Homo sapiens: one gene and its partners. The protein of the gene in region 2 purifies or fractionates together with the protein of the main gene of each other region. This does not show direct contact. Each region holds a gene or a part of one and is shown on either strand. Other genes may lie near its edges. The genes, in order: OMA1, EDEM1, PHF6, LAMP1, RNF121, DNAJB12 and BACE1.

Region 1 (3,500 bases), on a different chromosome or scaffold from region 2:
TTATCCCAGCATTTTGGGAGGCTGAGGTGGGTGGATCACCTGAGGTCAGGAGTTCGAGACCAGCCTGGCCAACGGGGTGAAACCCTGTCTCTACTGAAAATACAAAATTAGGCGGGCGTGGTGGCATGCGCCTGTAATCCCAGCTACTCGGGAGATTGAGGCAGGGGAATCGCTTGAACCCTGGAGGCAGAAGTTGTAGTGAGCCGAGATCGTGCCACTGCACTCTAGTCAGCGACAGGGTGAGACTCTGTCTCAAAAAAAAAAAAGAAGTATCTTTCAGTATGACTTCAAATTCAGCCCAACAAATACGGAGTACCTCTTAAAAGAAAGAAATGATGCTAGATGTGGGGGATACAAAGAGGAATAAGATATGGTTCTTGATATTTACAGGATGCTAAGATAAATAAAAAATGATTATTAGTACAAGGATATGATTTATCATAAGAAAAATAAAAACGGTATGCAGTTTGAAGGAAGATGAATCTGCTTCTAGTTTGGGATAAGAAACTCTAGTGCAAGATTTATTCATTCATTAGGTAGATCGATATTTATTGATACTTATTGATTAATCTACTATTCTGTGTTCTATTGCTGGGGAATGAGCAAGGAACAAAACAGTCTGTTTTCTTGGAGTTAACATTCTAGTTAGGTAATGCAAATAAGAAACAAACATATAGTATGCCAAGCAATAATAAGTACCTTGGGAAAAAATAAAGCAGATTAAAGGTATTAGAGAGGGGTGGGCAGCAGAGAAGGGGTACTAGTCTATGTTCGGTTGTCAAGGAAGGCCTCACTAATCAGAATCCGGAAGGAAGCACGGGAGCAAGTCCTTTAGCTGTGTGGAGGGAGAGAGAGCCTTTTAGGCTGAGGAAGCAGCTGATGCAGAGAACCTAAAGTCAGCGTATGTTTGATGTGTTCAAGGAATAGCAAGGAAGACATTGGGGCTGAATGGAGTAAGGGAAGGGAAGAACAGTTCAAGATGAGGTGAAAGGGGACCAGACCACGCAGGATCTTCTAAGCCATTGTAAGGACTTGACTTTCACTTCAAGTGATAGGAGAAGCTAGTTGAGGATATTGAGCAGAGGAGTGACTTGATTTGACTCATGTTTTATTGTGATCACTGGCATTATTGTGTGGAGTAGACTAGTGGGGCAACGGTGGAGTCAGGGAGACTTTTTAGGAGACTCTCATAATCCTGGTAGGAGATGATGGTGGCTTGGACCAAGATATCTGGTAGCAGAAAATGGGGAAAGAATCAGTCAGATTCTGGATATATTTTGAAAGGAGTGATGACAGGATTTGTTGGTAATTTAGGCATACTTCGTGCCTTTTGTGAGCATTGAGGACAGCCAAGCATGGCTTCTTAACACCTATTTTAGTTTGTTCAGGTTGCAATAATAAAAATACCATAGACTGGGTGGCTTATAAACAACAGAAACTTACTTCTCACAGTTTGGAAGGCTGTGAAATCTTAGATCCAATTTCCAACAGATTTGGTGTCTGGTGAGGGCCCACTTCCCAGCTCATAAACAGCCATCTTCTCCTTGTAACCTCACATGGTAGAAGGGGCAAGGGAGCTCTCAAAAGCCTCTTTTATAAAAGGGTGCTAACCCATTCATGAGGGCTCCACCCTTATGACAATCGCCTCCCAAAGGCGCTTACCTCCTGATACCATCACATTGGGAGTTGGAATTTCAACATATAAATTTTGACAGGACACAGACATTCACTCTATATCAGCAGCTATCTTAACTAGATTTCATTTGTATTCTTAATTTGAAAAAAAAATTTGAGAAAGAAATAGCAGTGAAATTTACCTGATATAATATGTAGTAATTATTCCTCTTAAAAGGGTAGTATAGGCATGGGACATTATGTATTTCTTCAGTAACTGACTTGTACTGAGGATCACTGACTATAAGAGGGTCCTTTGTGCTATCCAAGGCCCCTGGGACTTTATCGCACCCTGGGAGGCCTGGGCCTGTCTCTAAAGCAATGATAACAATATGATTTTCTCTTGAATTTTTTTTCTTTTTATTTTCGCTCAATGAAATTCTAAAAATATGTGGTTTGTTTAATTGGATAATAAATTCTGTTAGCCAACTTTTCATGTGAAGACTCCTAAATTCTGAGTTGTCATTTCATCATCAAATTACTGAGCATCTTCGGAGAGGTAAAAACTGTGCTTTAGAGATGTCTTTAAAATAATAATGAATTGATTAGTGAGTAGGAAGAAAAATGGCTAGAGAAACAAATTTTATTTGGGAGCAAATGATGAAGACAAAGACGTGAGACATTTTTCTTCTAAAAATAAACTATCCTAGTTCAGAAACTTAATTTGAAAACCTCATATAATTTCTTATATTCCCCACCCCAAGTGATTAAATTCAATTTGAAAGTAATAAAACTCTATTGCAATATTGGGAATAACTCAGTGGTTGAAGTGAAACTGATAGTACAAGGGTATATTGTTAATTAGAATATACAGTCATAACTCAAAGATTGGAATTCCCTATTATTGTAGTCTAATTTCTGACATATAATGAAAGAAGGCAGTTTCTCAGGCAGTATATAGAATTATGTGAGTCTGTATACTACTACTACATTTTGAAATTATATTTTATGTAGCATGCTCTAGTGAGTATGTTATGTTCTACCTAAGGTTCCTGTCCTTTGACATCTCTAGCAGTATGGTGAAGTTATGTTCCCCTCAAAGGCAGTTGAGAATACAGCACTAGAGAGCACAGACAAATCCAGGCCAGAGATGAAGATTTCAGAGTTTCAGAGTCATCTAAAAAGAAGTGATAGTTGAAGCAATGAGAATGGATGAGTTCACGTAGGAAGTGATTAGAGAAAAAGATCAAAGTAACAGTATTGCATATTTTCCACATTTAATGGGTGGGAGGAAGACAGAGCCTGTGTTGGATCAGATTCATAGGAAATCAAGAAAGCAAATAGGAAACCAAGAAAGCAGGATTCTGTGGGTCTGTGATTAGAACACAAATTTTGATCATTTTGATTTTTAAACTTTAGCTTATTGAAGATTGTATATTTTTATTTCTTATTGGATCCCTTGCATATCATCACAAAAATGTATTGTTTCTTACTGTAGCTTATCAACTTTTAAAATGTTTTAAATTTACACTTTATGCATTCAACAAGTATTTATCAGTCATCTGTTATATGCCAGGTTGTAGGTGATGTGAAATAAATAGACAAAAATCCCTGTCCTCATGAAGCTTATTCTGCAGTAAAGGGAGACAGATAATAAATTTGGTGCTGGGGGCGGGAGTGGGGGGCAGTGAGGAGGGAGAGGCAGCTCTCTTATGTCTCTTTTTATAAAGCTACTAATCCTATTCGATCAGGGCCCCACCCTTCAGACCTCATTAAACCTTAGTTACCTCCTTTTAGGCCTTATTTCCAAATACAGTTACACTGGAGGTTGGGACTTCAAAATATGAATTTTAGAGGAACACATGAGTCCTTAGCACACAGTTATG
Region 2 (3,500 bases):
TGAATGTATTTAGACAACTGCTTCCAGGGATGTCACAGTTGGTTAGTTCTCAAGATGTGCATCTGCTTTGAGGAAAAAAAGTGGTGGGGGTGGGGGGGTTTTAATTAAAGAAATAGTCTTAAGCATTTAGAGTTTAGTGAGTTGTGAATGAGAAAAACATAGCTCAGAAAAACACAGTATTTTCAAGTAGCAGAAATGTTTTCTGAAATTCTGGGCGGACTAAGGACCCCAGGGATGTGGCTTTCAGTCCTGGCCACGAAGCAGTTGCTGCGATGCCTTTTAGCTTCCCTGGATCTGCCATTTCTTTATAAAGTGAGTGAGGATGTTAAATTATGTCACTGGTCTTCACCTGAGGGTGATTTTGCTCCTCAGGGAACATTGGAACAGCGTCTGGAGACGTTTTTGATTTTCACAGCTGAGGCGTAGGAGTTGCCACTGGCACCTAGTGGGAGAGGCAAGGGGTGCTGCTGACCGTCCTGCAGTGTACAGGCAGCTTCCACAACAGTTACTTCCAAACGTCAGTAGTTCACAGGCTGAGAAACCCTGGATTAAGTCATCCAGTCACATTTCCTGAGAGAGCAACATATGAGTTTTTAATTTTCCCTCGTTTTTGTCTTTCTAGTGCAATCGTGTACCTGATGAGAGGAGGTACTCCCTGCCCTTAAAGAGCATCTACATGCGACAGATTGACCAGATGGTTGGTTTGATTTGATCTGCTCTCTGTGAGGCCTCATCTTGAACCAGACCTTAACGACCAAACCCAGACCATGCCAAAGTCCAGTCTGAAATGAAAGGGGACAGAAGTCTTGCTGTCCATGGTGGTGTAGGAATTTCTGTGCAACACCTCACCACGTCTGGTTAATCCTTGCACACTTCAGTGTTTCTCTCCTGTTCAATAAAATGCCCTGTTAAGGATATAATTTGAAGTGAGAAGATACATGGAAATTGCCCTCTTATGACATGTTGATGTTATAAGCACAATAGATGGGGCATCTTTGGATTGATGTTCACAGCTTTATACTTCAGAACCTAAGTCTCTTCACTTTGCTGGCACCTGCTATACTGGAGTATTGCTATGTCTTTAAAAAATTTTTTTTATTATATTTTATTTTTTTGAGACAGGGTCTTGATATTTTTTTGGGACAGGGTTACCTGGGCTCAAGTGATCCTTCTGCCTCAGCCTCCCGAGTAGCTGGGATTACAGGTGAGCACCACTGTACCTGGCTAGCTACTTCTTTGTTAGAGGATTGAGAATGAAATTTCTGCAAAAGGGCCCATGGTTCATTTGGTATCCCTATTTAATTGCATTGAAAATGTCATCCTTTCTGTTGTTAGATAATTGGGGTCTTCCCCTGATATCCAACCGTGATTTTGGATCACATGGGAGAAAAAGTCATCCAGTTTTTCATGTTTGCCTCAAGTAATCTTTACAGTGTTACAAATTATTTGCTTAAGAAGAATGGTCTTAACCAGAATTCTTAACAGATAGTCTCTTAGGTTATTATGTTATGGTCTAAGAGGTTAACTGACATCTTTTGGGTGGTATTTTGCATTTTGAATATGAACTTACCTGAGGAACTCCCATAGTTCCAGAATCAGGTGCCTTTTAGGGAGAGAACAATACCTAAGATTGTCTGAGCTTCCATCTTTCTCATATTTCCTAAGCAAGGATTCTCACTTCTGACCATATTTGGGTTAGAGTTCTGTTTTGTTTCTGTTTTCTGTGTCTAGTGCCAATTAGCTAAATCAGGGAGAAAGAAATGATCACATGACTTTTAGCATCCTTGAGCCATTTCTCTGTGTAATACAGGCTTTAGATTAGTGCCTTATATTGGTTTTGGTTTGGGGCACTGGATGTCGCAGCTACTGCTATGGTTTCAGGAGGCCTGTTTAGCCACATGGTGAGACCGTGGTGAAAGGGGGATGGAAATTGCTTGGCCAGTCTTTGCCTTTCATCCTGTAAAAGTAAGCATGTAGAAGGAGGAAGTTGTGCTAAAATGCCTTTGTTTTTTTGTTATTATTTTCTTAGCCAGAACATCTCTCTTTGAACTCACACTGATACACACCTGCTACTCTTACACAGTGCAGCAGGGTTGACTCTTAGTCTGGCTTCCATGAAGCGTCATGGGTGGAAACGCATTCTAGTAAAAAAGGTAGGAAATCCCTAAAACTTCCAGCCTCACATAGCACGGTTCTCACCTGTCACTGTTTTCCCACCTCTAAGGATTTCATGTACATCTTTTCAAAGCTAGAAATAAGCACTGTCTAAGTTTATGTTGCATTTTTAGTCAAAAGGGAGAAATCTTATTCCTTCTTGAAAATTTTAAGTGTTATGGTTTTATATAGTTCAGTTCTTTGAGATTTTTGAAAAGAGTATTTTCAGTAATAAACGTGCCATCTCTATCTCTTAAACATTTATTACAACAATTGTTTTAAAATAGAAAAAATAAAATGCTTCTATTTTACCTTTTTTCATTTCAGAAGCATTATTCTGTTTATTAACAGTGTCCCATCTACTGAATAGAAAACTTTGAGAATAATATATATATATATTTTAAATGTTTTCACTGACTCATTGAAAATGTTAATTACACACACATGCATGCATGCACACACGAGCATACTTGTACCTTTGTCTCTGGGCAAACAGGTGGGACTGTTAGTGACCCATTTGGGAAAATAGAGCATCTCAGAGAAGGAGGTGAGTTCTTCCTGCCTGTGATTTCTCTTGGCGCTCCCCTCCTCTCCCGCTCTGGCTTCTGTGGCGGCAGTGGTGGGTAAGCACTCCAGTGTTCTCTTAATGAGGCACTTTGCCTGTCACTCGAGCAAGCCTGGGTGTTCCTTCCTCCTCATGCTCCTGGAATAGGGAATAGGGATCTCATGCTTGCAAACTACACAATGCTGCAGGTGCTTCCCAGGGGCCACAGGCTGTCAGGAAACGTGTTTTATGTTAAGTCACAAACCCACTTGACTTCTGGGTACTGGAATTAATACCAGTGGGTGAGACTGAGGGTGAGTGAGTTAGTACATATTAATCCTGGTTGTTGAGCTTCCAGACTACCCCGTCCAAAGTTTGATGCTATGTAGTCAGTGGTTTGTGGGGCTGGATGCCAGAAGGTTCTTTGAGCCAGTTTCAAAGGTTACTTGTTTTTTTTTTTTTTTTTTAAAGTCAGAATGTTAACAGCTGTGATATATCCTGCAGGGCTTTTGCAGTTTCTTCTGTTCTGTGTTCTGAAATACTGGGTAGAGAATGGCTGAGGAGGAGATTACCAGAGAAGTTGCTTTGCTCAGTGCTTTGCCCCAGGATTGCCTCAAATCTGAGTGGACTTCATCCTTTGCGGCGGCTCTGAGCCTGGCCCATCTTCCTATTCCCACGTGTAGCTAGTGTCTAGTGTCAGCTTTGCTCAGTGTGGTGGAAACATTTTGCAGAACTGTTGTAGAAAGCTGCCTTATAGTTGGCTTGACAAAGCATAATTCTCTCATAACAAACTTTCAAATCA
Region 3 (3,500 bases), on a different chromosome or scaffold from region 2:
AGTCCTCATTTTATTTCAATGTCCATAATTTTGGTTATATTTTAATCAGACATGTAAATATATTAAAAATATTTGAGCAGATACTTGATTATTAAGGAAAGATTATCTTTCTTCGGAAATTAAATATAACACACTTGTTATCACATTTAATGTTTCTCTCATAAGGATTCTGAATGTTAATTTTCCTGCATTTTTCTTCTCTAGTTGTTTTCTTCTGGCACAGTCCAGCTCACAACAACATCAAGAGCAGAATTTGGAGACTTTGATATTAAAACTGTACTTCAGGAGATTAAACGAGGAAAAAGAATGGTCTGTAGTTTTTATATTTGTTATGCAACATTACACTTGATTTGCTGCTTTAAATTTAGAGTACATCCCAAATTTATCCAGTCATCAGAAAATTTAAAGTAGTTCGTATGTTAAAGCAAAGTATATATTTGACTTATTTGTAATATAATAAAGGATGCTGATGTTACTGAAACTTATTTCTCTATGTAACTTCATTACTTTAAGAGAATTATACTGAGAAGATTTATATACATTTCAAGGCATTTGCAAGCCGTTTAATAAAATAAATGAAGATATGAATGTGACAAACTTCATTAAGTTTAAAATGTTACATTGTGTAAGCTTGCTTAAAGGAAATTTTTTTCAGGGCTTTCTGTTTAAAGAACACATACACAGGGCTGCCTCTTAAAATGTTTGTCATAGCTTTAAGGTTTTTTAAATAAAATAATATAAAATACGCCTTAGTCTCATGTTGTTAAACATACTGAATTACCAACAAGTAGCTCTAAGAAATGTTGGCATCTTTATTGATCGCTTACTCCTTTAACACTTATGAATGCTATGTCGGTTATTTCTAGAAATTAATTTTTAAATTTTTTTGTTGGGAAAATTTTCAAACATACCGCAATTGGAAAGCCTAGTAACATGTATCTATCCATCATCTTGCTTCATCAGTTACCTAAATTTGTGGCGCTTGTTTCATATAGGCCTTTTATTCTTGTTGCTTGAAGTATTTTAAAGCAGACCTCAGACTTCGTATCACTATACCTCCATGTAGTTGAGTATGTATCTCTTAATAATTGGACATTTTCTTACCTAACCACAATGTCATTATACCTTACAATTTTTTTGTTTATTTTTTATTTTTTTATTTTTTTGAGACAGAGTCTCACTCTGTCGCCCAGGCTGGGGTGCAGTGGTGCGATCTCGGCTCACTGTAACCTCTGCCTCCCGGGTTCAAGTGATTCCCGTGCCTCAGTTTCCAAAGTAGCTGGGATTACAGACATGCACCAACACGCCTGGATAATTTTTGTATTTTTAGTAGAGACAGGGTTTCATTATGTTGGCCAGGCTTGTCATGAACTCCTGACCTCATGTGATCCACCCACCTCGGCTTCCCAAAGTGCTGGGATTACAGGCGTGAGCACCCGGCTAAAAATGAAACTTTCGTAACAGAGCCTGTAGTACTGAAAAAAGGAAAAACCACTTCATCATATTATTCAGAGCAGTGTTGTATAATACAGCTAAAGTCCAAACAGGTGACTAAGATAACAATTCAATTATCTTGCCAACTTATTGTTTACCTCTGTACCATTGAGGATTGGGGTAAACACTAACCTAGCATTTCCCCCAAGTGTGCTCCAAAGGAAGTTAGTCCATCAAGATGTTCCCCCACCCCTCCAGAGATAAAAGGGCATCTAGATTTCAATAAACTTGAAAACTGTTTACTCTGTGCCCCCTCCCTTGGAGAAAAGGCTGTGAGAAGTCCTGCAATAAAGTGATCTGCTTAACCTATCCTTTCTCAAACTTATTTGACTTGAAACCCCCTTTTCAACAGGTACCTTTTAATCTCCGAACATTCTTCAGGCAAGGTTTATCTAGGCCAAACTGAGAAGTTTTGAAAAGATTTCAGCCCCTTTAGTCTCCCTCTGTACTTTTGTCTACTGGTAGCAATTCCTCTGTGGGAGGATTGCTTTTCTGGTTTCTTATTCTTTCCCCTAATCATAATAGGAAAGGATCTGATCTTAGGGAAGAAAAGAAGCCAACCACTAAGATATACAACATCATTCTTTTTGTGTATTTGGCAGCATTGAGGAGAATCTTATCTACATTTAGATGTCAGACCTGGGATGGTCAGTAGTTTTTCTAATAAGCCAGCAGTTTATAAATGTTAAATAAGGGAAACATCAGGGGATGACAATATTAGAGGGCTTATCAAAGTATGGTTTAAGTTGCAGCATTATTTCAGTTATATGCTATGTGATAATTTCAGTGTACTCTTTTTCAATAGAAAATAGCTGCTGTTTTCTTGAAATACGGCTTACGATTATTTCTCTTTCCTTATACAGAAATGTACACTTTGCAGTCAGCCTGGTGCTACTATTGGATGTGAAATAAAAGCCTGTGTTAAGACTTACCATTACCACTGTGGAGTACAAGACAAAGCTAAATACATTGAAAATATGTCACGAGGAATTTACAAGTAAGAAAACAACAGTTGTCTATTTCCCTAAACATGTTAGTAACCGTCCTTAAATAGATGACATTAGTTTACTCAGTCTCTGTTCTTAAATGGTGTTTAGTTAAGTATAGAATACTGAGCACATTATGTAAGGAATGAGTACTACAATTGGCATTTTCCTCTGACTACATATCCCTGGATTAGCATTCATCCATCCAATATTAGTTAGGCTTCCTATGTGCCAGCCATTGTGCTTGAAGCTGGGCATATGCCAGTGATCAAAACTACATACACTGGGCCGGGTGCGGTGGCTCACATCTGTAATCCCAGCACTTTGGGAGGCCGAGGCGGGTGAATCACCTGAGGTCAGAAGTTCGAGACCAGCCTGACCAACATGGTGAAACCCCGTCTCTACTAAAATACAAAAATTACCCAGGTGTGGTGGCAGGCACCTGTAATCCCAGCTACTCGGGAGGCTGAGGCAGGAGAATCGCTTGAACCCAGGAGGCAGAGGTTGCAGTGAGCCAAGATTGCGCCATTGCACTCCAGCCTGAGCAACAAGAGTGAAATTCCATCTCAAACAAACAAAAAAAAAACACTACATATACTCTCCTCATGAAGCTTACAGTCTATTGGGAGAGACCTATTATTTAAGTGGCCAAATATGCAATTACAACATAGCAGCGTAAGTGTTCTAAAGAAGTTACAAAGTGTTATGAGAGCGTATAAGAAGGAAGAGCTAACCTAGTCTGTAGTGGGGAGTATTTAAAATGTTCTGAAGGAAATAGTGCTCAGCTTTAAGCTGAGATATTAAGGACAAAGGTGAGCCTTGGTTGGGGGAGGTATTCTGGGCAGAGAGAAGAGCATATGCAAGAGCCCCGGGTGAGACAGAAGCAGAGGTGGAAATGGGGAGATGTGTTAGGAGGCTAGTGCTGGTGGTCCAGGTGAGAATTATTGGTAGCTTAGAATAGGATATGGTAGACAGAAGGCAAAAGATTCTCTTGAGAAGATGGTGAAAAAGTAAAGTATG
Region 4 (3,500 bases), on a different chromosome or scaffold from region 2:
GGGAGGCCCAGGTGGGCGGATCAGCTGAAGTCAGGGGTTTGAGACCAGCCTGGCCAATGTGGTGAAACCCCGTCTCTACTAAGAATACAAAAATTAGCCAGGCGTGGTGTGGTGGCAGGCGCCTGTAATTCCAGCTACGTGGGAGGCTGAGGCAGGAGAATTGCTTGAACCTGGGAGGCAGGGGTTGCAGGGAGCTGAGATCGTGCCATTGCACTCCAGCCTGGGCAACAAAATCGAAACTCAATGTCAAAAAAAAAAAAAAAAAAAGAAAAAGAAAAGAAAGAAAAGCTGGGTGTGGTGGCTCATGCCTGTAATCCCAGCACTTTGGGAGGCTGAGGCAGGCCGATCACTAGGTCAAGAGATCGAGACCATCCTGGCCACAACATGGTGAAACTCCATCTCTATTCTTTTTAAAAATATTTTTAAAAAGTTAGCCAGGCGTAGTGGCACAGGCCTGTAGTCCCAGTTACTCAGGAGGCTGAGGCAGGAGAACTGCTTGAACCCGGAAGGTGGAGGTTGCAGTGAGCCGAGATCGTGCCACTGCTCTTCAGGGCAACAGAGCGAGACTCCATCTCAAAAAAACAAAGAAAAAAATTTTTTTTCTACTAACCGATGTTACCTTTGATTGTGCAGATTGTCAGTTATGCGGTGGAAAGAATGAATTTGTCAGCAGATTTGAGGTCAGAATGTCTTTGTAGCCCTGTAATTTTGAATTTGTATTGCATTAGCCCCATCCCAGACAACGTTACCCTTTCTTCTCTGTACCCAAGACTTTTATTGCATGTGCTTCTACATGGTAACATCTGTTCGGCTGCACTGGGATTATTTTTGCCTGTGTATCTCCCTTCCTTAACTGACAGGTAGTAAGTGCTGAGTACATATATGAAGAAAGGATCAATTTTATAGCAGTGGCTCTCAACCAAACATATGCACGGATCCACACGATCAGCTTTTTAGAAATATACATACCACAGCGAGGCACAGTGGCTCATGCCTGTCATCTCAGTGCTTTGAGGCTAAGGCAGGAGGATTGCTTGAGATCAGCCTGGGCAACATGGCGAGACCAGTGTCTCTACAAAAAAAATTAAAAAGAAATATACGGCCGGGCACGGTGGCTGTCACGTGTAATCCTAACACTTTGGGAGGCCGAGGTGGGTGGATTGCCTGAGCTCAGGAGTTCGAGACCAGCCTGGGCAATATGGTGAAATCCCATCTCTACTAAAATACAAAAAAAATTAGTCGGGCATGGTGGCGTACCCCTGTAGTCATAGCTACTTGGAAGGCTGAGGTAGGAGAATTGCTTGAGCCCGGGAGGCGGAGGTTGCAGTGAGCGAAGATCATGCTACTGGACTCCAGCCTGGGTGACAGAGTGAGACTCTGTTTCCATTTAAAAAAAAAAAAAAAAAATATATATATATATATATATATATATATATATATATATATATATATATTTACACACACACACACTTATACCTTGCCTCTAGAGGTTGTGATTCAGTGCCTGGGATGGTATTTTTTTCCTTTAGTTCTTCATAAATGATTGTGCATCATTGGTTAAGTAGAATAAAAATACCATATTTAAAAGAATCAAGCCAAGAAAAACTAAGATGTGATTTCTTTTTTTTTTTTTTTTTTTTTTGAGACGGAGTCTCGCTCTGTCGCCCAGGCTGGAGTGCAGTGGTGCGATCTCGGCTCACTGCAAGCTCCGCCTCCCAGGTTCACGCCATTCTCCTGCCTCAGCCTCCCGAGTACCAGGGATTACAGGCATGCGCCACCATGCCCGGCTAATTTTGTATTTTTAGTGGTGACAGGGTTTCTCCATGTTTGGTCAGGCTGGTCTCAAACGCCTAACCTCAGGTGATCTGCCCACCTCGGCCTCCCAAAGTGCTGGGATTACAGGCGGTAGCCACCACACCCAGCCTAAGATGTAATTTCTTAATAAATTGTTTTTTCTTCTTTTTTTGAGACAGTCTCTTTATGTTGTCCAGTCTGGAGTGCAGTGGCACGATCTCAGCTCACTGCAACCTCCACCTCCCGGGTTCAAGTGATTCTTCTGCCTCAGCCTCCCGAGTAGCTGAGACTACAGGCATGCGCCACCATGCCCGTCTAATTTTTGTATATATTTTTTAGTAGAGACGGGGTTTCACCATGCTAGCTAGGCTAGTCTCAAACTCCTGACCTCAGGTGATCCGCCTGCCTCAGCCTCCCAAAGTGCTGGGATTACAGGCTGGGATTACGGGCTGTGCCCGGCCTAATTTTTTAAAATGAAGTTTTTTACTCATTTCTTCAGATGGTAATCTTTAATGTCAAAAGCGAGTATTTCTTAATTTTTATTTATTTTAATTCAAAAAAATTAAATTTTTTTTTTAAGAGACAAGGTCTTGCTGTGTTGACCAGCCTGGTCTGGAACTCCTAACCTCAAGCAGTCCTCCGCTTCCTCAGCCTCCCAAAGTGCTGAGATTACAGGCATGAGCCACTGCACCCAGCCAGTGTTTCCTCATTGGAAGCCCGTTCCCTCAGTCATCAAGTGCTGGAGAGGCAGCGTGGCTCAGAAGTGGCACGTCCTGTGAGTCAGAAGACCCCTTCTAGATCTAGGTCTCCGCCACTCACTAGCTGTGTGACCTGGGTGGGTTAGTTGACCTCTCTATGCCTTAATCTCCCTATGAAGAGTTGTCATGATAACTGGGATGTGCTTAGAGCAGCACCTGGCACAAAGTAAGTGCATTCCAAGTGCTTGTTAAATGAGATAGTTTTTGATGTTTTGTGTCAGATACTGAGGATTGAATGATGAACTTGATGGGAACCCTCTGTACCTGTGCAGATGTTTAATAACAGCTGACATCAAAGCTGGCGTCAGTGCCGGGCACCAAATGCTCAGCTGCTCCGACAGCCCTGAGGCCTTGGCACTCTCTCCTCCTGCTCGTGGGTGCAGAGACTGGGGATTGGGCTCTGCTACTGGCCATGGTTGCACAGCTAGTAAGTGCTGCAAGAACCTCCAAGAACTGAGGGCTGTGACTCAGAAGCACGCATGCTTCCCACAGCGGCACTTGTTTCAGAGAACAGAATTTCTCCCAAGTGGGGGTATTTTGAAGCCACAGTTACTCCTTTATGTGATCCCTGGAGAAGTGGTCCTGTTCGTGTCTGAGTACAGGACTGCCGGAGATAGCAGTCACCAGTAGGCCAGGGTGCCCACCTTGGAGATGCTGCCAACGGCTGTCCTGTTGGGCTGTGACACCTGTCAGGTTACTGGAAACATTGTAACTTACTTGAGGTTTTTTGTCTTTTTTTTTTTTTGCTACCCAGTTGCCACTGTTGTGGAGGTTTTTAAAAAAACTTCTGACCCTTATAGCATACATACATTTCCTCCTCAAGCTCTGTGTGCTGATGCTCTTATTTTCTTCTATACCAAAATTGCCTTCTGAGGGTAAGTTTATTTTAATAACTCAAAATTCCTGGGTCTCTCCAGAGTAATACAGGCATCTTGTGCTGCCAAAGCT
Region 5 (3,500 bases), on a different chromosome or scaffold from region 2:
CATGTAGTAGTGTCATTTGACCTAGTCTTGGGGCTCAAAGATGGCTTCCTTGAAGAAGTGACTATGGAGCTGACTTGAACAATGAATAGCAGTTAAGTGGATGAAGTGAGAACCAGGCAGAGGAAAGAGCATTCATAAGAGTCCTGTCACGGGAGAAAGTGTGGGTGTTTTTGAGGAACTAAGACCATTGCGGTTGTATGGCCAAGAAGTGCCTGGAGAAGTAGTGACTAGACTAGAAAAAAGCCTGTGGGCCAAATTAAAGATTTTGATTTTTATGCTAAAAATCCTGGGAGGGGCCGGGCACAGTGGCTCACTTTGGGAGGCTGAGGCAGGCAGATTGCTTGAGCCCAGGAGTTCAAGACCAGCCTGAGCACCATAGTGAGACCCCATCTCTACAAAAAAATGAGACAAAAAAAAAAAAAACCTAGCCGGGCGTGGTGGCACATGCCTGTAGTCCCAGCTACTTTGGAGACCAAGGTGGGAAGTCACTTGAGCCTTGCAGTGAGCTTGTTCATGCCACCAAACTCCAGCCTGGGCAACAGAGCAAGACGTTGTCTCTAAATAAGTAAAAATTCACAAAATGTATAATAATCATGCAAAGGCACAACAATAAATGATGGGGCACAAAAGTGCTTAGTCCATATTGGTAATTGTTTTTGAACTGCACAGTGGTAGGAGTTGCTCCTTACAATTTTTACTTTGTGAACTCTTATTCCTTGATTTAACCCACAGCCGCTACAACAACAGCCACTGTCACTTACTGCTTTACCAAAAATTGGGGAAGCTTTCATACTTGCTTTGTTAATCTTTAACTGTATGTGTAAAGCTACACATTTCATTTCAACATTTAATATTAAAAGTGTTTTGAGTCTTTACTTAAGAGACAATTTGGTGTCTCTTAAATAGAGGTTTAGTGATGTCTTTGTGACAGAAATATGACACAGGAACTGAACTCTTGTTTCTATCAATTAGCCTGTGGTAAAATTGGTTTTGTTATATGTCGTTTCATTTAAAGTCACAGTTTCCAAGAAACTGTCAGTGAAGTGAGGACATACTGTATTTGAGAAGTATTTTGGACTTAGATATAGTTTGGTTCTGAAGACTGAAGGGAAAAATACAAAGGAAATATAGGTTTCAAAGCTGAGATTTCTGATTCGGCAACTGCTTGGATGGTAGTACCTTTCACTGAGATAGGAAATGCTGCAAGAGCAGCAGGTGGACATCACGGAGAGATGCTTAAATATGGGTAAATTAACAGCCAATCTGAGAAACGCAAGTAAATATTTCTATTTTTTTTTTCAGAATGGAAATATATCTTTATTGTTTTGCTGTTTATAAAAGTAGTATGTTCTCTTTGTAATTATTTAAACAACACAGAAGTGCTCCCTGTCTCAGTGTCATCCCCCAAGACCCCACCCCAAGAAGGAATATTTCCATCACCTTGGGTAACTTTAATCTAGTACCGTTTAAGGCCAGGGACTTTGTCCCTCAGTATCATGGGAATATTCTAATTTTTTCTCTACTGGATCAAATTGAAAACAGTACATTGGATCACTTTATTGACAGTTTATTAGGTTCCTTTTTGAACAACTGTCTTGTGCTTTACCTTCATTTCCCTCTTACCTATTTGTGTAGACATTGGATCTTCCTTTAACCAGTTTACTCCCCAGAAGAGATTTCTAGACCATGTCACCATTTTGACCATTTTGAAGTATACAATTCATGCATTAATTACATTTGCAGTGTTCTGCAACATTTTCACTGTCTAATTCCAAAATTTTTCTTCATCCCAAACAGAAACTCTGCCCATTAAGCAGTAACTCATTACCCCTTCCCACAGCCCTGGTTTACCTCTAATATACTTTCCATCTCTGTGAACATGCCTATTGTAGATATTTCATGTAAATGGAATCATACAATATTTGTCCCTTTGGCTTTTTTCACTTAGCGTAGTGTTTTCAGAGTTCATCCATGTATAGAATGTATCATTCCTTTATATGGCTGAATAGTATTCCATTGTGTGTGACACCGCATTTGGTTTATTCATTCATCTGTGGATAGGCACTTGAGTTGTTTCCACTTTTTGGCTACTGTGAGTAACGCTGTGAGCACTGGCGTTTAAGTGTGTTTAGTCCCTAGTTTCATATCTTTTGGGTTTATACCGAGAATGGAATTGCTTGGTCATTTGGTAATTTTATGTTTAACTTTTTGAGGACATGCCAAACTCTTTGCTTTCTTAATTATGATAATGCTTAAGTGAATATCTGTATTCATGAAGCTTCTTTGACACTTCCTCTTTTTTTTTTTTTTTTTGAGATGGAGTCTCGGTCTGTTGCCCAGGCTGGAGTGCAGTGGTGCGATCTCGGCTCACTGCAAGCTCTGCCTCCCGGGTTCACGCCATTCTCCTGCCTCAGCCTCCTGAGTAGCTGGGACTACAGGCGCCCCCCACCATGCCTGGCTAATTTTTTGTATTTTTAGTAGAGACGGGGTTTCACTGTGTTAGTTAGGATGCTCTCGATCTCCTGACCTCGTGATCCGCCCTCCTTGGCCTCCCAAAGTGCTGGGGTTACAGGCGTCAGCCACCGCGCCCAGCCTCCTCTTATTTCTTTAAATTCCTTGAAGTGAAATTAATGGGTCAAAAGGTGCAACAATTTGAGATACCATGCTAAATCCTATCTGAAAGGCTTGAACCCCTTTTGCTGCTGCCACAAATGTCTGAGAATGCCCTTGTCACCAAACCAACATGGCACTTAATATTTCACTGTTTTAAATGTTGGAGAATATTGTTGTCCATTTCTGGTGGAACCATAGTCTGGCGACAGAATGGCTTGCCTGACACAGCTTTTGATCACCAGCCCCAAGTCCTTCTCCCTCCCCTTCCCCTTATCCTTTGGTGCTGATCCAGCCCAGTTTATAGGTTCTGTTACATCTAACTTCCCAACTGTCTCTAGTCTGGTCACTTCTCCCCATCTGCCCAGCAAAGATGAGGTCGATTTGACTTGTAAAAGATTACCTTTTCTAAACAGTTTAAAAAAAAAAAGATGTCCTCTAACTCTGGGCCTCCCGCTGCCACTGTGCCTCTTCTCTAGAAGGCCTGAGGTCTCTGTGGAGCTTCCTACTTTGGCTGCTTCTCACATCTTTTCCTATCTTTCCTTCCTGCTATTCTCCTTCAGTTCTACAGCGAGTCGGGCATGCCTACCAAACATCTTTCAGACAGTGTGTGTGCTGTGTGTGGGCAGCAGATCTTTGTGGACGTCAGTGAAGAGGGGATCATTGAGAACACGTATAGGCTGTCCTGCAATCATGTGTATCCTGCCTCGAGCTCCTGGGCCACATCTCTCCTGCAATCTGCACACTGTAGTGAGAGAGAGAAAGAGGGTGGTCATGACCCTAGGCATGCTGTCCAGACCCTTGAGTGTAGGAGAGCCACAAGAGGGCCACCTTCCCTACCCTTTCCCACAGATCAGAGCCACTCTTAGGTAAACAGTGGTTACAACCTG
Region 6 (2,778 bases), on a different chromosome or scaffold from region 2:
ACACACAATACATGCACACACATAATACACATGCACACATACACGCACACATATACACACAGAGTTTTGCATATAATTTCGGCGGCTTTGTGACTCTTCCCTGCCCATCTCCCCTGCCAACCCTGACGAAGAACCTCTGCTCCTCGGCTCTGGTTGGGCTTCCTGAGGCTGTGGAAAGAACAGGGCACTAGAGTCAGACAGAGCAAGCATGGCTTAGAATCCCAGCTTCTCCACTAAGAAGCTGTGTGACCCTAAACAAGTTATATAACCTTGGTTTCCTCATCTATAAAATGGGAATTATAACATCCACCTGCTGTGGAAATTAATGAGTAATGCATATAAAATGTCTGGCCCACTAGAAATGCTCAACAATATTAGTTTAATGAATGCTTAGTCTCGACTGCCAGGAGTGAACTTGAGGACATTTCATGAGCCGTTAGGGGGTCAGCTCCCCTCACTGATGTCCAGCACCTGGCCCAGGGTCAGCTACACAGTGGGTGCACATCTTCAGTGGGGTGGGTCCCCCTCTCCCAAAAGGTGGCCACCTCTGGCTGGGAGCTGGCAGGACCCTTCTCAGCCAGCAGGGGGCAGAGTCGGTCCACTGGACCCTGGCCGCCGGCTCAGGCTCCCTGTGGCCAGATGCCAGCCCTTTTCCCTGCAACTGGAGAGATGTGAGGAGCAGAGGACTAGGGCAGGGACTGTTGTCCCCAGAGCACTGGTCCTGTCTGGGTGTCAAGGCTCTTCCCACAGCTGACAGAGCCTGTGATTGGAGCTGGGAGGATAAGGCTCCCTGGAGCCCTTCCTGTCATTTTGTTCCTAAGCCTCTTAACCCTACACTGGGAACTCCTAGATAGGCAGGCAAGCACTCAGCAACAATTGGCTTAGGGGATGAATGGGGAGATGGAGGCACAGAGGCAGAGCCCAGATTCCCTCTCAGGTCTCCAGTTCCCTAGACCAGGCCTCTCCCCAAAGGCCCCAGGTCAGCAGTGTGGTAAGCAGGGATCTAAAGGCAGGGCGTCCTGCGGTCTGGGCCACGTGTGTGGGAGGACGCTGCCTTTTCCTCAGACTCTCCTTTCAGGGAGTGTGCGGGTCCCTGCTCTGGTTTGAGAGGGAACCAACTACTCCTCTGGTCTGTGCGGCACCTCCTGTCTTGGGGCCCATACCCCTAGAGTGCCCTGGGCATGGGGACCCGCACCCACTTTGAACCTGGTATTTCTGGCCAGGTCCGTGGGCCACATCCACAGGCGAGTCACTGACCACCTGGGTGTCGTCTACTATGTGGGAGACACTTTCTCCGAAGAGTACACAGGCTCCAGCCTCAAAACAGTCGAGCGGAATGTGGAAGATGATTATATCGCCAACCTCCGGAACAACTGCTGGAAGGAGAAGCAGCAGAGTGAGTGTGGGGGGAAGGCGGGGGCTGTATTTGGGAGGTGGCTTGGGATGAAGCTGGAAAGCAGGGGAAGGAGAGAGCCCTGCTCACCCTGTGCTCTGAGGGCCCAGCCCCTGGCACTGCCCTGCACCAGCCACCTCCCAGACAAGAGCTGGTCTCCACTCCTGTGTTTCTCCGGGGCTGGGAGCCAGGGGCCACCTGGTAGTTTCCTCAGGTTCCCGTAAATCACTGCCATCAGCCCAGCATGTTGGCTGCCAGAGGTGAGTGTGTAGAGATGGACTGGAGCGGATGGATCCCTGGCCACCCCCTGACTGTGCTCCTGGATCTGTCTGTGGGACCCTGGGGAGGCCTGACCAGGATGACAGGGTCTCACCTTGGCTGGCCTCACTGCATTCTAGAGAAAGGCGCCTCTGTCACCCTCGCCCACATAAGGACTGTAGTCTCTGCTCCTCCATGGTCTTCCTAATGGGAGGCCAGCCCTGCCCAAGCCCCGGGCATGTACCAGCTTTCCTCCGCCCTCCACAGCCCTCGCAGGCTTCCTTGCAGGCTTCGGGAGGTACTGGGTGTGCACTAACCCTGTCCCATTGCTTTGCAGAGGAAGGCTTGCTGTACCGGGCACGCTACTTTGGCGACACAGATATGTACCACAGAGCACAGAAGATGGGCACCCCCAGCTGCAGCCGACTGTCAGAGGTGCAGGCCTCCCTGCATGGATAGTCCTGGGCCAGCCACACCACCGAGGTCCAAGTATGAGCCAGGGCTGCCTCCACCCTGCAACTCCTGGCAGCTTTGGCCCTGGTCATGAGCAGAGGAGGGAGGGGGAGAAAGGGAGGAAGCCTGGTGATTGTGGCAAAGACTCCTGTCCCCAGCCTGACCTCCAGCCTCCAGAGACCGAGCAGCTGTGGGGCCTGCTGGGAAACCAAGGTCGGTTTCCGCCCTCTAGCGATGCTGTCCTCCCCACTCCTCCGCTCTGCTCCCTGGCTCCAGGGGTGTGGGGGACCCCAGAACCAGGCAGAGTGGGAACTTGAAACTGTTGCTGAGGGCCACCCGGGGCTTCTTGGTCCACTCCAGCCATCAGTCAGCACGGCCCTTTCTCCAGCACAGCAGACTATTGTCCGTGCCCTGGTATTTAGGCCATCACATATGGTGGGGCCCAAGAGAGCCCCATATGCACACTGCCTGCCTGATACCAGGAAGAACCATGTGGGAATAGGTGGGCCAAGAGCCCTCCCCTTTCTCCATCCCTCCAGCTAGGAGGAAATGGAGCAAGATGAACAGGCAGCCACGAGGTGGGTGGGAGCTGGCAGTCTTGGTGGCGGCAGGGGCCGCGGGCCCTGACCACCCCCCTCTGGTGGGATCTGAGGCACTCTCTCGAATGCCGTCAC
Region 7 (3,500 bases), on a different chromosome or scaffold from region 2:
CTTAAATGAAGTGCCCACTAAGAAGTTCCACTTAACACATGAATTTCTGCCATATTAATTTCATTGTCTCTATCTGAACCACCCTTTATTCTACATATGATAGGCAGCACTGAAATATCCTAACCCCCTAAGCTCCAGGTGCCCTGTGGGAGAGCAACTGGACTATAGCAGGGCTGGGCTCTGTCTTCCTGGTCATAGGCTCACTCTTTCCCCCAAATCTTCCTCTGGAGCTTTGCAGCCAAGGTGCTAAAAGGAATAGGTAGGAGACCTCTTCTATCTAATCCTTAAAAGCATAATGTTGAACATTCATTCAACAGCTGATGCCCTATAACCCCTGCCTGGATTTCTTCCTATTAGGCTATAAGAAGTAGCAAGATCTTTACATAATTCAGAGTGGTTTCATTGCCTTCCTACCCTCTCTAATGGCCCCTCCATTTATTTGACTAAAGCATCACACAGTGGCACTAGCATTATACCAAGAGTATGAGAAATACAGTGCTTTATGGCTCTAACATTACTGCCTTCAGTATCAAGGCTGCCTGGAGAAAGGATGGCAGCCTCAGGGCTTCCTTATGTCCTCCACCACAAGAGCTCCTTGATGAAGGTCATCTTTTTCCCCTATCCTGTTCTTCCCCTCCCCGCTCCTAATGGTACGTGGGTACCCAGGCTGGTTCTTGGGCTAGGTAGTGGGGACCAAGTTCATTACCTCCCTATCAGTTCTAGCATAGTAAACTACGGTACCAGTGTTAGTGGGAAGAGCTGGGTTTTCCTAGTATACCCACTGCATCCTACTCCTACCTGGTCAACCCGCTGCTTCCAGGTATGGGACCTGCTAAGTGTGGAATTACCTGATAAGGGAGAGGGAAATACAAGGAGGGCCTCTGGTGTTCCTGGCCTCAGCCAGCTGCCCACAAGCCATAAACCAATAAAACAAGAATACTGAGTCAGTTTTTTATCTGGGTTCTCTTCATTCCCACTGCACTTGGTGCTGCTTTGGCTGACTGGGAACACCCCATAACTACAGAGTCTGACAGGAAGACTGGAGACTGTCCACTTCTAGCTCGGAACTTACTGTGTAAATAAACTTTCAGAACTGCTACCATGAAGTGAAAATGCCACATTTTGCTTTATAATTTCTACCCATGTTGGGAAAAACTGGCTTTTTCCCAGCCCTTTCCAGGGCATAAAACTCAACCCCTTCGATAGCAAGTCCCATCAGCCTATTATTTTTTTAAAGAAAACTTGCACTTGTTTTTCTTTTTACAGTTACTTCCTTCCTGCCCCAAAATTATAAACTCTAAGTGTAAAAAAAAGTCTTAACAACAGCTTCTTGCTTGTAAAAATATGTATTATACATCTGTATTTTTAAATTCTGCTCCTGAAAAATGACTGTCCCATTCTCCACTCACTGCATTTGGGGCCTTTCCCATTGGTCTGCATGTCTTTTATCATTGCAGGCCAGTGGACAGAGGGAGAAGGGAGAACAGGGGTCGCCAACACTTGTGTTGCTTTCTGACTGATCCTGAACAAGAAAGAGTAACACTGAGGCGCTCGCTCCCATGCACAACTCTCCAAAACACTTATCCTCCTGCAAGAGTGGGCTTTCCAGGGTCTTTACTGGGAAGCAGTTAAGCCCCCTCCTCACCCCTTCCTTTTTTCTTTCTTTACTCCTTTGGCTTCAAAGGATTTTGGAAAAGAAACAATATGCTTTACACTCATTTTCAATTTCTAAATTTGCAGGGGATACTGAAAAATACGGCAGGTGGCCTAAGGCTGCTGTAAAGTTGAGGGGAGAGGAAATCTTAAGATTACAAGATAAAAAACGAATCCCCTAAACAAAAAGAACAATAGAACTGGTCTTCCATTTTGCCACCTTTCCTGTTCATGACAGCTACTAACCTGGAGACAGTAACATTTCATTAACCAAAGAAAGTGGGTCACCTGACCTCTGAAGAGCTGAGTACTCAGGCCACTCCAATCACCCTACAAGATGCCAAGGAGGTCCCAGGAAGTCCAGCTCCTTAAACTGACGCTAGTCAATAAACCTGGGCAAGTGAGGCAAGAGAAATGAGGAAGAATCCATCTGTGAGGTGATAGGCAAGGATGAAAGACAAAGAAGGAAAAGAGTATCAAAGGCAGAAAGGAGATCATTTAGTTGGGTCTGAAAGGAAAAGTCTTTGCTATCCGACATGTACTGCTAGTACCTGTAAGCATTTTAGGTCCCAGAATGGAAAAAAAAATCAGCTATTGGTAATATAATAATGTCCTTTCCCTGGAGTCAGTTTTTTTAAAAAGTTAACTCTTAGTTTTTACTTGTTTAATTCTAAAAGAGAAGGGAGCTGAGGCCATTCCCTGTAGGAGTAAAGATAAAAGGATAGGAAAAGATTCAAAGCTCTAATAGAGTCACAGCTTTCCCAGGTATAAAACCTAAAATTAAGAAGTACAATAAGCAGAGGTGGAAAATGATCTAGTTCCTGATAGCTACCCACAGAGCAAGTGATTTATAAATTTGAAATCCAAACTACTTTCTTAATATCACTTTGGTCTCCATTTTTCCCAGGACAGGAAATATGTCCCCCCCTAACTTTCTTGCTTCAAAAATTAAAATCCAGCATCCCAAGATCATTCTACAAGTAATTTTGCACAGACATCTCCTCACCCCAGTGCCTGTCTGGAGCTCACCCAAGGTCACCAAACAACTTGGTTGTGAACCAACTGCCTTAACCTTCTGGGGGAGGGGGATTAGCTAGACTAGGAGACCAGAAGTGAATGGGAAAGGGTGAGGACTTCACAATGTTGGCCTGTCAGAGCTTGATTAGAAGCCAAGACAGTGGCAGCAAAGGAAGACTTGGCCCAGGAAAAACCTGTGGGTTGTGCTAATTTCTGTCCAGAAAATAGGGTGGACAGAAGCTTGTGGGGTACATGGAGGAATTGGGACCTGGTTATGTTGTTATTCTCGGACTGTGAATTTTGGTGATGTAAAACAGAATATTCTGTAAACCTAATGTCTGTATAAATAATGAGCGTTAACACAGTAAAATATTCAATAAGAAGTCAAACTACTAGGGTTACTTTTTTTTCCTCAATCAGAGTCTCATTTTATCCATTTGGAGTAGAGTGGCTAAAACAATACTGAGGCTTCTGGAGGCTTTCGGTAAGCAAGGCATCTGGTTGGACAGTGGGTGAGCACCAGGCTTTAAATCTGCATACATGAGCCTTAAGGAAATGGACTAGAGGCTGAGCCAAACCAAAGCAGAATGGCCTTAGAGCAACAGCAGGTTCCTAGGTGGTTTTTATATTGTATTTGAAAACAGCCCTGGGCAGGGATATCATAATTTCAAGGCCAAACTAAACATCATCTTCCCTACAATCTGCATCCCCCAAAGGAATTGCAAGATGAGGGGGAACAGACTGTTTCTGCATAATATACATAGTTTCATTTACGAACATTGGAATACAGACTTTCTATACACACATTACCTATATAATAAAAATGTACA

Evidence for each region.
Region 1: the proteins of EDEM1 (region 2) and OMA1 purify together in Homo sapiens (affinity purification with mass spectrometry; one large-scale study listed by BioGRID and IntAct). This does not show direct contact.
Region 3: the proteins of EDEM1 (region 2) and PHF6 purify together in Homo sapiens (affinity purification with mass spectrometry; one large-scale study listed by BioGRID and IntAct). This does not show direct contact.
Region 4: the proteins of EDEM1 (region 2) and LAMP1 purify together in Homo sapiens (affinity purification with mass spectrometry, with the first as the bait; one study listed by BioGRID). This does not show direct contact.
Region 5: the proteins of EDEM1 (region 2) and RNF121 purify together in Homo sapiens (affinity purification with mass spectrometry, with the first as the bait; one study listed by BioGRID). This does not show direct contact.
Region 6: the proteins of EDEM1 (region 2) and DNAJB12 purify together in Homo sapiens (affinity purification with mass spectrometry, with the first as the bait; 2 studies listed by BioGRID). This does not show direct contact.
Region 7: the proteins of EDEM1 (region 2) and BACE1 purify together in Homo sapiens (affinity purification with western blotting; one study listed by BioGRID). This does not show direct contact.

The regions. Positions count from the first base shown.
Region 1 is NC_000001.11:58,501,727-58,505,226, reverse strand, and holds part of OMA1 (metalloendopeptidase OMA1, mitochondrial precursor), read left to right. Parts: intron 1-3,500. UniProt on the Homo sapiens protein: Metalloprotease that is part of the quality control system in the inner membrane of mitochondria. Activated in response to various mitochondrial stress, leading to the proteolytic cleavage of target proteins, such as OPA1, UQCC3 and DELE1.
Region 2 is NC_000003.12:5,215,207-5,218,706, forward strand, and holds part of EDEM1 (ER degradation-enhancing alpha-mannosidase-like protein 1), read left to right. Parts: intron 1-622; coding exon 623-712; 3' UTR 713-3,500. UniProt on the Homo sapiens protein: Extracts misfolded glycoproteins, but not glycoproteins undergoing productive folding, from the calnexin cycle.
Region 3 is NC_000023.11:134,414,812-134,418,311, forward strand, and holds part of PHF6 (PHD finger protein 6), read left to right. Parts: intron 1-204; coding exon 205-309; coding exon of another isoform or gene 310-411; exon of another isoform or gene 412-481; intron 482-2,357; coding exon 2,358-2,491; intron 2,492-3,500.
Region 4 is NC_000013.11:113,300,239-113,303,738, forward strand, and holds part of LAMP1 (lysosome-associated membrane glycoprotein 1 precursor), read left to right. Parts: intron 1-3,500. UniProt on the Homo sapiens protein: Lysosomal membrane glycoprotein which plays an important role in lysosome biogenesis, lysosomal pH regulation, autophagy and cholesterol homeostasis.
Region 5 is NC_000011.10:71,991,546-71,995,045, forward strand, and holds part of RNF121 (E3 ubiquitin ligase RNF121), read left to right. Parts: intron 1-3,173; coding exon 3,174-3,307; intron 3,308-3,500. UniProt on the Homo sapiens protein: E3 ubiquitin ligase which accepts ubiquitin and transfers it to substrates thereby promoting their degradation by the endoplasmic reticulum-associated degradation (ERAD) pathway which is a pathway involved in ubiquitin-dependent degradation of misfolded endoplasmic reticulum proteins.
Region 6 is NC_000010.11:72,335,142-72,337,919, reverse strand, and holds part of DNAJB12 (dnaJ homolog subfamily B member 12), read left to right. Parts: intron 1-1,223; coding exon 1,224-1,396; intron 1,397-1,988; coding exon 1,989-2,110; 3' UTR 2,111-2,140; exon of another isoform or gene 2,141-2,778. UniProt on the Homo sapiens protein: Acts as a co-chaperone with HSPA8/Hsc70; required to promote protein folding and trafficking, prevent aggregation of client proteins, and promote unfolded proteins to endoplasmic reticulum-associated degradation (ERAD) pathway.
Region 7 is NC_000011.10:117,285,257-117,288,756, reverse strand, and holds the end of BACE1 (beta-secretase 1 isoform A preproprotein), read left to right. Parts: 3' UTR 1-3,059; downstream 3,060-3,500. UniProt on the Homo sapiens protein: Responsible for the proteolytic processing of the amyloid precursor protein (APP).